Linked DNA regions of Homo sapiens. The protein of the gene in region 2 purifies or fractionates together with the protein of the main gene of each other region. This does not show direct contact. Each region holds a gene or a part of one and is shown on either strand. Other genes may lie near its edges.

Region 1 (6,911 bases), on a different chromosome or scaffold from region 2:
AGCCTAATTCTCTAAGTGGTTAAGAAGTAGGTGACAAAGGGAGTGTGTAAACTGGAGAGAGGCTCCAAGATGGGAGTGCATGAAATTAAGGTTACGGGAAGGGTTCTTCATAGGCAATGAGGTTATATACTCCATAAATAGAAATGAATGAAGATGGATGAAGACAAAATTTCTAAAGTAAAAAGAGAAACTGACAGATTTCATATTATAATATGATATGAAGTGGACAGAGAAATTAAGAGTAATTTGCATTTCTAACACTGTGAGGAGGTTAGGATGGGGGAAACGGAGATTTGGAGGGGAAAAAAGGTACTACAGGAGGCATTATACAAAGGGAAGTGAATAAAAAGCCTGTCAAGCAGTTGAGATTTTTTTTTCTTTTTTATAGAGACAGGGTCTTGCTATGTTGCCCAGGCTAGTCCCGAACTCCTGAGCTCAAAGGATCCCCCTGCCCGCCGCCTTGTCTTCCCAAAGTGCTGGGATTACAGGTGAGCCACTGTGCCAGCCAGGCAGTTGAGTTTTGACTGTGACATCCACAAAGTCGTACTATTGGCAACTATGTTACTTTCTACAGTAATAACCAGCAGTTCCATAGATTTCTCCAGGGATAGAGATTAGCAATGCAGAAATGATGGAAGACAGGAGGGTAAGACAGAATAGAAGAATCAGCTAGAAATTCAAGCCCTCCTGCCAGATCCCCATGGTCACTGATTGAAGGCTGGAACTCCTTGAGAAATCCTAAAACGAATCTCACACTTCCTCCAAACAAAGCTACATCTAAACCTGCTGAAGAGTTTGTTAAAAAAAAAAAAAAACGATTCTGATTCAGTAAATCTGAGGTAGGTCTGAGATCTCCACTTCTAACAAGCTCCTGGTGATGCCGCAGACCACACTCTTGAGTAGCAAAGTGTTAATCGAAAGTAACCATCCTAGCTAGTTTCGTTTAATGGTGGCACCTATGTCATTCTAGTACTTGTCAGGGGACACTACTCTTTCTCTCTCCCGCAGTCCCTACTATTTTTACCATTTCTCTCCTGTCTCAGGCTTCGGTACTAATAATTTTTAAATTATAATATGTATAATAGTAGCTAAAGGCCGGGCACGGTGGCTCACGCTTGTAATCCCAGCACCTTGGGAGGCCAAGGCGGGCGCATCACCTGAGGTTGGGAGCTCCAGCCCAGCCTGACCACCATGGAGAAACCCTGTCTCTACTAAAAATACAAAAGTAGCAGGGCGTGGTGGCGCATGCCTGTAATCCCAGCTACTCGGGAGGCTGGGGCAGGAGAATTGCTTGAACCCAGAGAGTGCAGGTTGCGGTGAGCCGAGATCGCGCCATTGCACTCCAGCCTGGGCAACAAGAGCAAAACTCCGTCTAAAAAAAAAAAAGTAGCTAATATTTTGTTACTATGTGCTAAGCACTGTTACATTAATTTAATCCTCACAAAACTACTGGAAGTAGTACTCTTATCTTCACTCATCTTCATTTTACAGATCACACAAAGTAACTTGCCTAAGACCACCAAGCTAGTAAGTGGTAGAACCCAGACTGGCTCTACCTAAACTGCCTCTCCAGGGCAAAAGTACTAATGGCTCTCAGGGGCTTCTCTGAGAGGATAGGGTCTTAGAGTGGAGAGGACCTGTTGGAACGACATCTCCACAGAGCGGGAAATAGGGAGAGTAGTTTATAGTAGCTACTAGACTGGAGAACTACCAGGAAACACAGATCGTCGTGCAGACGGCCAGGCAGTGAGTAGAAATGGGCACAAAAGAAAAAGTCTTTGGTTTCAACGAAAGCACATGAGTAATGGGAAAGGCAAGACTAACCTGGATTAGTAGAGTCAAATCCTGTTTTAGACTAGAAGTACCAGGGTATAAGTCGGGAGGCTGCAACTTATTTCGTATGCTTATGCAGTTTCTTGGAACCATGGCTCTCAAACTTGCGAATTTGCATTTTTAACAATTTCCCAGATGACGATAAAGCTAGTCTGGGAAGAACACTTCATAATCACTATTATAAAGAAAACCTGAATTGTTTTTCACCACCCAGTAATAAACCTACAGCTTATGGTGTGTCTAACTTTTTACACTCAAATCAGATTTGGAGCCAGGCGCAATGGCTCACGCTTGTAATCCCAGCACTTTGGGAGGCCAAGATGGGAAGATCCTTTGAGCCCAGGAGTCAGAGACAAGCCTGGACAACACAGGGAGACCCCTTCTCTACAAATAAAATTTACAAATTAGCCGGGCCTGGTGGCGCGCACCTGTGGTCCCATCTACTCAGGTGGCTGAGGCAGGAGAATCGCTGGAACCCGGAAGGCGGAGGTTGCCGTGAGCGGAGATAGCACCACCGCACTCCAGCCTGGGTGACACAGCAAGACTCCGTCTCAAAAAAAAAAAAAAAATCCATTTTGGAGGTTGTTTTGTGTCCGTTTTTGTTGTTGTTGTTAACTGTGTTAATTCACAGATTTGAAGTTTTAGAAAATTAACTACAACTAAATCCGAGCTATTCTGCTGACAGCATTTATTCAAATTATGCTTAAAGTTTTCAGAGATAACCAAAGCCAACAGAATTCAACGTGCGCTCAGGTCTCGCTTTGCCCTCGCTGTGCCTTCTCCGTAGGCCGCTCTCTGGGCCAAGCACCTCCCCGGAACGCGCGCAACCGCGGCGGACAGGCAGCCGCCGGCGCGGGAGCTGAGGTAGGAGCCCGGGGCACCCACAGGCCGCAGCGGACGCACGCAGCTAGCACGGTCCCCGCCCCGGGTCGCGCCTGCGGCCTCCCCAGCGTCTGCGCCGCGAGTCCGCTGGACCCGCCAGGGCGTAACGGCGGGTAACCCGCCCCACCCGCCGCACAACACACCCAACTGCACGGACTCACGTCCGGGATCCCCTGCCTGCCTCTCGAGGAAGACACCTGCCCAGGCCGGCCGCAGAAGAGGTCGCACAGCTTGCCGCCGCCCAGGGTTTCAGCGTGCTTCCTGGGCCTCGTCATCGAATTGTTCGGCTGACGGCTGCGTGTCCCTCCCCCGTTGCGGGCCGCTGATTGGCCTCGTTGATTGGGCGGGGCTAGTAGCGGGACCGGCCTCTGCGCGCGGGTTATTTTCGCCGCGGATTTTCTTTTACTTTTCATCTGCGGAACTCTTTCTGCGAAGGAAATCTCGCCTGGAACTCAAATATATACAACGGATAGGAAACCTATTTTCTTACTATTAATATATTTGATAAGTTTGAATGTGTAACATTCGCCATGAAACGCAAGCATGATTTTTTTTTTTTTGAGGCAGAGTCTCACAGTGTTGCCCAGGCTGGAGTGCAGTGGCGCGATCTCGGCTCGGCTCACTGCAACCTCTGCCTCCCGGGTTCAAGCAATTCTCCTCTCTCAGCCTCCCGAGCAGCTGGGACTACAAGCGCGCACCACCACATCCAGCTAATGTGTATTTTTAGCAGAGACAGGGTTTCACCATGTTGGCTAGGCTGGTCTCGAACTCCTGACCTCAGGTGATCCGCCCGCCTCGGCCTCCCAAAATGCTGGGATTACAGGTGTAAGCCACCGCGCCTAGCCACAAGCATAATTTTTTAAAGGGAGGATCACGAATGACAACTGTAGTTCTACTCAGGGCAGGACAAGGGAAAGGTCTGCACACTGTAGGGCAGTTGGAAGTAGTTTTGTTTTTGTCTTTAACTGCTGGCCTTGCAATCTCGGGAAACTGTGAAGATGGTAAAATTTACTATCTTAACCATTTTTAAAGGTACAATTCAGTGGTATTAGATACATTCACATTGTTATGCAACCATTACCACCATCCATCTCCAGCACTCATCTTGCAAAACTGAAACTCTGTACCCAGTAAGTGGTAACGCCTCATTCTTCCCCTCCCTCCTTCCCAGCGACTACCATTCTTTCTGTCTTTATGAATTTGACTACTCTAGGTATTTCATATAAGGACTCATACAGCATTTGTCTTTTTGTAACTGATTTCACTTACCATAATGTCCTCAAGGTTCATCCATGTGGTAACGTGTCAGAATTTCTTTTAAGGCTGAATAGTATTCCATTTTATGTATATACCAGTTCATTCAGTCATCTGTTAATGGATAACAGGTTGTTTCCACTTTTGGCTACTGTGAAATAATACTGTAAACATGGATATACAAATATCTGTTTTTTAACCCTTTTGGGTATACACACAGATGTTCAAATATCTGTTGCTTTCAACTCCTGAATATATATACACAAGTGGAATTGCTGGATTATGTAGTAATTCTATTTTTAATTTTTTGAGGATCTGCCGTACTTTTTTTTTTTTTGAGATGGAGTTTCACTCTTGTTGCCCAGGCTGGAGTGCAGTGGTACGATCTCGGCTCACCACAACCTCTGCCTCCCGGGTTCAAGCGATTCTCCTGCCTCAGCCTCTTGAGTAGCTGTGACTACAGGCGTTTGCCACCATGCCTGGCTAATTTTTGTATTTTTAGTAGAGATGGGGTTTCACTATGTTGACCAGGCTGGTCTCGAACTCCTGACCTCGTTATCCACCCACCTCGACCTGCCAAAGTGCTGGGATTACACGCATGAGCCACTGCGCCCGGCGGAACTGCCATTCTCTTTTCCATAGTGGCTGCAACATTTTACATTCCCTCCAAGAGTGCACAAGTTCCAATTTCCCCACATCTCCACTGACATCTTTTTATTTTTGTATAGTAGCCATCTTAATAGGTGTGAGGTATCTCACTGTGGTCTTGATTTGCCTTTCGCTAATGACCAGTGATGTTGAGCATCTTTTCTTGTGCTTATTGGTCATGCCATTTGTATATGTTTGTTGGAGAAATGTCTATTCAAGTCCTTTACCCATTTGTTTTGTTTGTTTTATTTTGTTTTGTTAAGAGACAGGGTCTCGCTTTGTCACCCAGGCTGAAGTGCAGTGTCATGATCATGGCCCACTGCAGCCTTGAACTCCTGGCTTTGCCCATTTTTTAATGGGTTTTTGTTGTGTTTTGGTTCCTTATATATTCTGGATATTAACCACCTTATCAGATAGGATTTGCAAATATCTTCTCCCACTTTTTCTTTTCTTTTTTTTTTTAGAGACAGGGTCTCCCTGTATTGCCCAGGCTGGTGTCAAACTCCTGGGTTCAAGTGATCCTCCTGCCACAGCCTTCCAAAGTGTTGGGATTACAGGCATGAGCCACCATGCCCGGCCCCATCTTCTCCCTCTTAGTGGGTTGCCTTTTCACTCTGTTGTGTCCTTTGGCTTCTTACTATAAAACGAAAATAAAATTCTAAGCCCCCCAACCAACTGAATAGGCCCATCCTCTCAGCCAAGGGCATTCTAAAGTAAACCTGAGGCCAGTTGCAGTGGCTCATGCCTGTAATCTCAGCCCTTTGGGATGCCAAGGCAGGTGAATCACTTAAGGGCAGGAGTTCAAGACCAGCCTGGCCAACATGGTGAAACCCTGTCTCTAGTAAAATCACAAAAATTAGGCAGGCAAAGCGGTGGGCCCGTAATGCCAGCTACTTGGGAGGCTGAGGCAGGAGAATCGCTTGAACCTGGAAGGTGGGTGTTGCAGTGAGCTGAGATCATGCCATTGCACTCCAGCCTGGGTGACAAAGCGAGACTCTGTCTCAGGAAAAAAAAAAAAAACAGAGACCTTAACACTGACACACTTTGTAGCAGTAAGATACCAATGTGACAGCAGGTCCATCCCCCCACCCCCACCTCTGAGTTGTCCCATCTTTCTGAACTGAACCAATGTATATTTAACATGTATTGATTGATGTCTTACGCTCCCTAAAATGTATATAAAACCATGCTGTAGCCCAAACACCTTGGGCACATCTTCTCAGGATCTCCTGAGGCTATGTCATGGGCCATGGTCACTTAAATTTGGCTCAGAATAAATCTCTTCAAATATTTTACAGAGTTTGACTCCGTCGACATTACAATTTTGGAAAAGTAAACATTTTAAAAATAAAATTTGGGGGCAGATGTGGTGTCTCATGCCTGTAATGCTAGCATTTTGGGTGACCAAGATGGGAGGACTGTTAAGAGGCCAGGAGTTTGAGACCAGCCTAGGCAACATAGTGAGACACCCATCTCTATAAAAAAAATTAGCCCCACATTGTGGCATGTGCCTGTAGTCCTAGCTACTCGGGAGGCTGAGTGAGGCAGGAGGATCATTTGAGCACAGGAGTTCTAGGCTATAGTGAGCAAGACTTTGTCAATATAACACAATGCAATAGAAAAATTAAACATTTTAAAAATAGAAATAATCTCTCAACTTGAGGCAACACACACACACACACACACACACACACACACACACACACACACATAAAATTGGAACAGACCTCTAAATGTCCTCCCTGGGAATAATTAAGAACCTCTGCACTACCCATCCACCCCAATTCCCCTTCCTTGCACTGCCAAATGAGATGGACCCCAAGAGTATAGATACTTCAGTCCTCTCATTTTCTCTTTTATGTGAACCTCAAAGAACCTAGTCACCCCATGCAGAAGACATGTGGAGACAAACAAAAAAGGACATATGTAACCAGCTATTTACTGAAGCAAATATAACAATTTCTGGTGCTTATTATTTTGAGAGGGAGTCTTGCTCTGTCGCCCAGGCTGGAGTGCAGTGGCACAATCTTGACTCACTGCAACCTCCACCTCCCGCATTCAAGCGATTCTCCTGCCTCAGCCTCTCGAGTAGCTGAGATTACAGGCACATGCCACCACAGCCGGCTGATCTTTTTTTTTTTTTTTTTTTTAAGACAGGGTTGCACCATTGTTGACTAAAAGAGTCAAACTCTGTAAAATATTTGAAGAGATTTATTCTGAGCCAAATATGAGTGACCATGGCCCGTGATACAGCCCTCGGGGTCCTGAGAACATGTGCCCAAGGTGGTCAGGGT
Region 2 (7,027 bases):
TTTTGTAGTTTTTGCACAGACGGGGTTTCACCATCTTGTGCAGGCTGGTCTCGAACTCCTGGGCTCAAGGGATCCGCCCACCTCGGCCTCCTAAAGTGCTGGGGTTACAGGCGTGGGCCACTGTGCCCGGCCCACTGTCCATTTTTCTATTGGGCTGTTGTTTGTTAATATGTTTTGGAAATAAGTTCCCATAGTCTTTTATATTTGTTTTAAGAATTAGAAACGCAACTTCTGGGACTAAGTTGGCTGGGTTTAAATCCTGGCTCACCACTTTCTAGCTATGTGACCTTTGGTAGATTCCTTAACTCTTCGTGTTCCCCTTTCATCAACAGTGCTATTCCCTTGTTTGGTTACTGAGAGAATTAAGTAAAATAAAGCACATAAAAGTTATCTGCATAGCTTCATGTAAATGTCCAATAAATGTTATCTATTATTATTACTGATTGCATAATTTCAATCACCATCATACGGAAGTGTTTAGCTTTGTAGTCAAATTTATTAACCTTCTGGAGGGGCAAGTGTTATTTCATATCTTGTTTATGCATATCTTCTTTATCCAAAAGTTATAAAACTATTTCCCAGCTGGACGCGGTGGCTCACGCCTGTAATCCCAGCACTTTGGGAAGCCAAGGCCGGTGGATCACCCGAGGTCAGGAGTTCGAGACCAGCCGGGCCAACATGGTAAAATCCCATCTCTACTAAAAATACAGAAGTTAGCTGAGCATGGTGGCGGGCGCCTGTAATCCCAGCTACTGGGGAGGCTGAGGGAGAAGAATTGCTTGAACCTGGGAGGTGGAGGTTGCAGTGAGCTGAGATCGCACCACTGCACTCCAGCCTGTGTGACAGAGCGAGAGTCTCTCTCAAAAAAAAAAACAAAAAGCAAACAAACAACAACAAATATGTATATATCCTCATATTCCTCACATGCAGGGATCACTTGCAGGCTGTTTTAAGTGCCTTAAACCTGCAGACGCTCTGTGAATCTGCAGATGCCCTTCCCAAGGGGAAAACAGACACTCCTCATTCCCAAGGTCTCCTAATTCAAATCATTTCTGTGACACAGTGGGTGAAATGAATGCTCCCAGAGTTAAAAGACAGACTCTGGAGGCACACTTCCTGGATTCAAATCCCAGCTTCAGCAAGTCTCATAACTTCTCTGAGCCTCAGTTTCATCATCTGTAAAATGGACATAATAGTAAAACCTGCCTGGTGGGATTGTCGTGAAGATTAAATAAGTTGATATTTAAAGCACTTAGAATCGTGCCTGACATGTGGTAAGGGCCAAGTCAGTGTTAGTTTTAAATATTATTAATTAATGAACTCACTCCAGCAGCTTCTCTATCCCATGGGTGGCTGGAGGGAGCCTGACCACTGCCTCTTCTCACTTTCCACTCCTCTTCTCTTTTTTTGTTTTTTTTTTGAGACAGTCTTGCTCTGTGGCCCAGTCTGGAGTGCAGTGGCACGATCTCAGCTCACTGCAACCCCTGCCTTCTGGGTTCAAGTGATTCTCCTGCCTCAGCCTCCCAAGTAGCTGGGATTCCAGGCACCTGCCACCACACCTGGCTAATTTTTGTATTTTTAGTAGAGACGAGGTTTCACCATGTTGGCCAGGCTGGTCTCAAACTCCCGACCTCAGGTGATCCACCCAGCCTCCCAAAGTGCTGGGATTACAGGCGTGAGCCACCGTGCCCAGCCCAACCCCTCTATCTCTTCAACACCCTCTCTCTCAGTCATCAGTTTCCTCTTCTCAGCAGCCCTGTGGACAGACAACAGGCTGGGTCTAGGGCCATAGCACGGTAACCGGAAAAGGTAAAGAGACTCACCTGAGGCCACCAGAGACCAGCCTGGTCATCAGGCCTCTAAGCCCACTGTCCTTTCATGAAATTTTTGAGCTGCTTCTGCAAAGATGACCTTTCTCTTCACCTACTGCCAAACACACACACACACACACACACACACACACACACTTCTCCCTCCGTGGCCCAGGACTTGTAGTAATAATCTTGACCACTACGGTAAGAACCATACTATGGTAAGGGCCAGTGTGGTGGCTCACGTCTGTAATCTCAACACTTTGGGAGGTCAAGGCTGGTGGACCACTTGAGGTCAGGAGTTCGAGACCAGCCTGGCCAACATGGTGAGACCCCCCCCAACACACCCCCACCATCTCTATTAAAAGTACAAAAATCAGCCTGGCATGATGGCAGGTGCCTGTAATTCCAGCTACTTGGGAGGCTGAGGCAGGAGAATCACTTGAACCCAGGAGTCAGAGGTTGCAGTGAGCCGAGATCATGCCATTGCACTCCAGCCTGAGCAATAAGAGCAAAACTCCGTCTCAAGAAAAAAAGGAAAAAAAAAGAACCAGTGAAGGGAAATGTTGACTAAACCACCATTATCTATTTAATCGAGAAGGTTGTGGGTGTTGAACCAAGATGGTCTCACTTTGGCCACAGATATGGCTGGAAGATCAGCATCAGCTGCTGTCTCTTGGCCACAAGATTGAGGGGCAATTGGAAACCATGCATGTTCTAAAGCCATGATCTTCTAACTGTTGCTCACGTAACTCTTTTGTCTTTTTTTTTTCCTTTCTGTGGAGAATAGGGTCTCACTATATTGCCCAAGCAGGTCTCGAACTCCTGGGCTCAAGCTATTCTCCCGCCTCTGCCTCCCTAAGAGCTGGGATTACAGGCGTGAGCCACTGCACCTGGCTCTCATGTCACTCTTAAAGAAGTTTCTAGAACTATGTACTCCTCCACACATTTTCAGCTAACATTAAAATGTTCTTATCCCAAGTTTGAATCGTTGCCAAGGATGGGATTTCCAGCGTTGTTGTGTATTTTTTTAAACTGTATTTTCATCCAAACTCTTGGAGCTACAGGGTTGAGTTTATTCAGTTTATGGGAAATGTCTACAGTAGAATCTAAGTAATAATGCCTGTCCTCTTTTGCCAAAGCAATTAGACGTCAAACTGATTATAAGAAAAATGTTGGCTTCATTTTCTTTCATTGAAAGAAATGTGTTGACATGCATCCCTGAGACCGCTATCTCACTTTGAATTCTAATTTGTAGATAAATAGTAGACACTGCACACGGGAACAGCTAGATAAGGCTTGGCTCCTTGCCTGCGCTTGTAGCCTGGGGCAAATCTCCCCAGCACGTTTCTCTTGATGCTCTCTGCTTTGCTCCCAAGGTCCCCCTGGGAAAAGCCGAGCATCCACGCAGGGGCCTCTGTTTGATACCCCAGAGGTTTTTACACCCAGGAGCAGCACATCCAGGATGCGGAGAGGAGTCCCTTTCTGTTTACCATGGTAGACAGGGAATTGTACAATGGAAGGAGAGGAAGGAGAACCACAGGCCGACCACAGGCTCCCCCTCAGGCAGGTCATTTTAGGAAAAAAACATACAGGCTTGAGAATCTAGAAATAAATCAGTCTCTCAAAACTCTCTGTGTTCATGTAACCCCTGGAAAGTGACTGTGTATCCCCAGGGATCCCTGTACCCCGGTTTAAGAGCCATGTTCTAAAGCCCTGAGATGATGGACTGTGAGGACCCTCGGTGCCTGCTGGTTACAGCCTGGGTGTGTGCACAGGCGTATCACGTGTTGTGACCATGTGTGTGCACATGTGGGTGTGTGGATATGCACACTGTGGGTGTGTGTCACCATCCAGGCACCCACAAGGGAAAAGCTAACGCCTCATGACCCCAACCGCTCTGATGTTGCGATGGGACGTGTGGCTGCTCCCTGCTGCTGGGTGTCAGGCTGTCTGTGGGCCCAGAGTCCATCTGAGCCCATGTGGGGGGATGTGCCTGTCTGTGTCTGTCTGTTTGACTTTGTGTGTCCCAGTAGTCAGATTTTTCAGTTCTGTGAGAGGAAAGCACACATCAGGATTTCTCAAAGCCCAGCAAGCCTCTGGTGCACCGCTGAGCCTCACCAACACGAAGGGAAGGAATGGCCAGCTCCACAGCGAGGACCTGAGGCTGAGGGACCTCTCCCAGCCCCACCTCCCCCTGCTCTCCCGCGGCACCCTACACTCAAACTACCATGGCTGTTCCAGCCCAGGCTCTCTCCTGCTCCTGCCTAGACTGTCCCTCAGGCCCATACCCCACCCACCCTCTGTGCCAGGGGACCCAGTGGGGCTGGAGCTGGGCACAGAACATGACCCACAGAAAGAGCCCACCCCAGCATGAACCCAGGGCCCCGGCTCCAGAGCCAGGGCTCCTCCTTACCAGTCTGAAGCAAACCAGCATGGTTGTCACTGATCTGGAAAACCTCCTGTATATCCAGCAGCACTCCTGCAGACAGAGGGACAGTGCTCAGGAAACGGGAAGTAGCCCTCCTGGCCTCTAAAGGCAGCTGCTCCAGGTTTGGCACAGGGCCACAGCTGACCAGCACAGCACAGGGCATGGCACCCAAGCCCACTGTTCTCTCCCCCTCTCTCCCATACAGCTGTACAACCACACACACAAGAGCAGGCACACAGAGAAACGTGTGCATTTCAAACACTCAAAGAAACAAGCATCCCTTGGCTGGGCACGGTGGCTCACGCCTGTAATCTCAGCAGTTTGGGAGGCCAAGGCTGGCGGATCACCTGAGGTCAGGAGCTTGAGACCAGCCATGGTCAACGTGGTGAAACCCCGTCTCTACTAAAAGTACAAAAAATTAGCCGGACGTGGTGGCGGGCGCCTGTAATCCCAGCTACTCGGGAGGCTGAGGCAGGAGAATTGCTTGAGCCTGGGAGGTGGAGGTTGCAGTGAGCCGAGATCGCGCCATTGCACTCCAGCCTGGGCAACAAGAGCCACGCTCCATCTCAAAAAAAAAAGAAAGAAAAAGAAAGAAAGAAGCATCCCAAAGGCACAGACATTCACACACACACACTGACACATAAGCACGCAGCCACACGGCTCCTTCCCTCCTCTTCATATGGGAACACAGATATAGATACAAACAGGCATTCCCAGAGAAACACACCTGCAGAGGCACAAATACACACACACACACACACACACACAGGAACTCACTCTCACAGACATGTACACCCAGCCTCACTCATACACCCAGACACACAGACACATGTGCAGTGAGATGTGCACCCAGAGGCCTGCCCGCGTATGCACAGGCTCAGGGCTGCCATCCACACTGCAGTCAGAGGAGCGGCAGCCCCCTGTCGCTGCTCAGTGCACAGCCCTTTACTTAGGCCACTGTGTAAACGGAAGTCCCTGGAGCTGTACAGCACAGTGGCCTCGCTCATGCACAAACACTGGAAATGCATAGGTGAACATGTACATAAAAAGACGAACGTGTCCTGGCTTGCACGCATGTGCACACACAAGCCTGTTCTTCCAGAGGCACAGCAGTGGGCACCCAGCCTAATGTAGAGAGAGAAAGTGGGTCTCCCAGACACCAGGGTCTGTTTCCTGATAGCCTCTTGGTGTCCTAGAAAGGGTCGGGGTCTGCAGCACCTGCTCACGTGAGCCATGCGGCTCTGGCCCTGTCATTATTATGAAGAAGAACAATCCTCACTTTCATCAGTCAGGAGGTGACTGACAGCCAGGCCCTGAGCTGTACACTCGCAGTTGTCATCCTAAAAGAGGGGGACTGTCATTGCCCCCATTCTACAGATGAGGAAACAGAGGCTTTAGCGGCCCAAGGTTGCCCGTCTGAAGCTGGGGGAGCTGGGGCTCAAATCTCAGCCAGAGGCAGCCTGTCCACACACCCAGAACCACAGAAGGGGAGCAGAAGCCCCCAAGTGGGTCCCCGCAGAAACACCCACACCAAGAAAGCCCTGCGTGCACACCTCTAAGAGCTGCCCCATGCACATGAAGATCAAGGGATCAGAGGAGCAAAGCAAAAAATCCTTGCTCAGGGAGGGACGTGGTGGCTCACGCCTGTAATCCCAGCACTTTGGGAGGCCGAGGCCGGCAGATCTTGAGGTCAGGAGATCAAGACCATCGTGGCTAACACAGTGAAATCCCATCTCTATTTAAAAATACAAAAAATTAGCCAGATGTTGTGGCACAGGCCTGTAGTCCCAGCTACTCAGGAGGCTGAGGCAGGAGAATCGCTTGAACCTGGGAGGCGGAGGTTGCAGTGAGCTGAGATCATGCCACTGCACTCCAGCCTGGGCGACAGAGTGAGACTCCGTCTCCAAAAAAAAAAAAAAAGAAATCTTTGTTTAGACATTTAATTTGTCCCCAATTGCCACTGCAACCTGGCATACAAACTGTTATGTCTTTTTCCCCTTTTAATATTTTGTTTTTTATTTTTATTTTATTTATTTATTTTTGAGACTGAATCTCACTATTTCATCCAGGCTGAAGTGCAGTGACACGATCTCAGCTCACTGCAACCTCTGCCTCCTGGGTTCAGGCAATTTTCCTGCCTCGGCCTCCCAAGTAGCTGGGATTACAGGTGCCCGCCATCACGCCTGGCTAATTTTTGTATTTTTAGTAGAGACGGGGTTTCACCATTTTGGCCAGTCTGGTCTCGAACTCCTGATCTCAGGTGATCCACCTGCCTCGGCCTCTCAAAGTCCCCCTTTTATTATTTTAAATACACAAAGAAGACAGTCATTGGAAAGAAAAAAAGGAGACAACACAGGTAAGCAAAATAAATAGCTAAACGAAAATGCTCCAAATTGTGCCCATCTTCCATTTTCAGGAATGAGGACTCATCCCCTTGTTTTCTCTCCTCCTGGGCTCCTCTCAGCCCCATGGTACTCTAGAGGTGATCCAGAGCCAAGCGTGCACCCACCCTTGCTTTCATCTGTAGCCTACCACCCTGGCCCCATAAGAGCTGTTTCCTGCAAGAACATTTTAGCTGTTTACCCCCACCAGTTCCCAGATGCTCAGCACGGTTTCACTTCTCCAGGTCTCTATCCCCACAGTAACCACAGCCCCCTTTCTTGCACATACAGAGGAAGTGCTGATGGAGAAGGGACCTGGACAGGCAAGACTCAGGGTCTTAGGGCCCAGCCAGGGACCTCCAGGGCTAGCGGCAGAGATAGCGGGTCCCCAGGCTCGTGGGTTC

The links. Proteins that work in one complex are often made in the same cells at the same time.
Region 1: the proteins of SPNS3 (region 2) and CLCC1 purify together in Homo sapiens (affinity purification with mass spectrometry; 4 studies listed by BioGRID and IntAct, with this or other methods). This does not show direct contact.

The regions. Positions count from the first base shown.
Region 1 is NC_000001.11:108,960,485-108,967,395, forward strand, and holds the start of CLCC1 (chloride channel CLIC-like protein 1 isoform 1 precursor), read right to left. Parts: upstream 3,001-6,911; 5' UTR 2,877-3,000; intron 1,986-2,876; 5' UTR 1,825-1,985; intron 1-1,824. UniProt on the Homo sapiens protein: Anion-selective channel with Ca(2+)-dependent and voltage-independent gating. Permeable to small monovalent anions with selectivity for bromide > chloride > nitrate > fluoride.
Region 2 is NC_000017.11:4,436,924-4,443,950, reverse strand, and holds part of SPNS3 (protein spinster homolog 3), read right to left. Parts: intron 4,294-7,027; coding exon 4,228-4,293; intron 1-4,227. UniProt on the Homo sapiens protein: Sphingolipid transporter.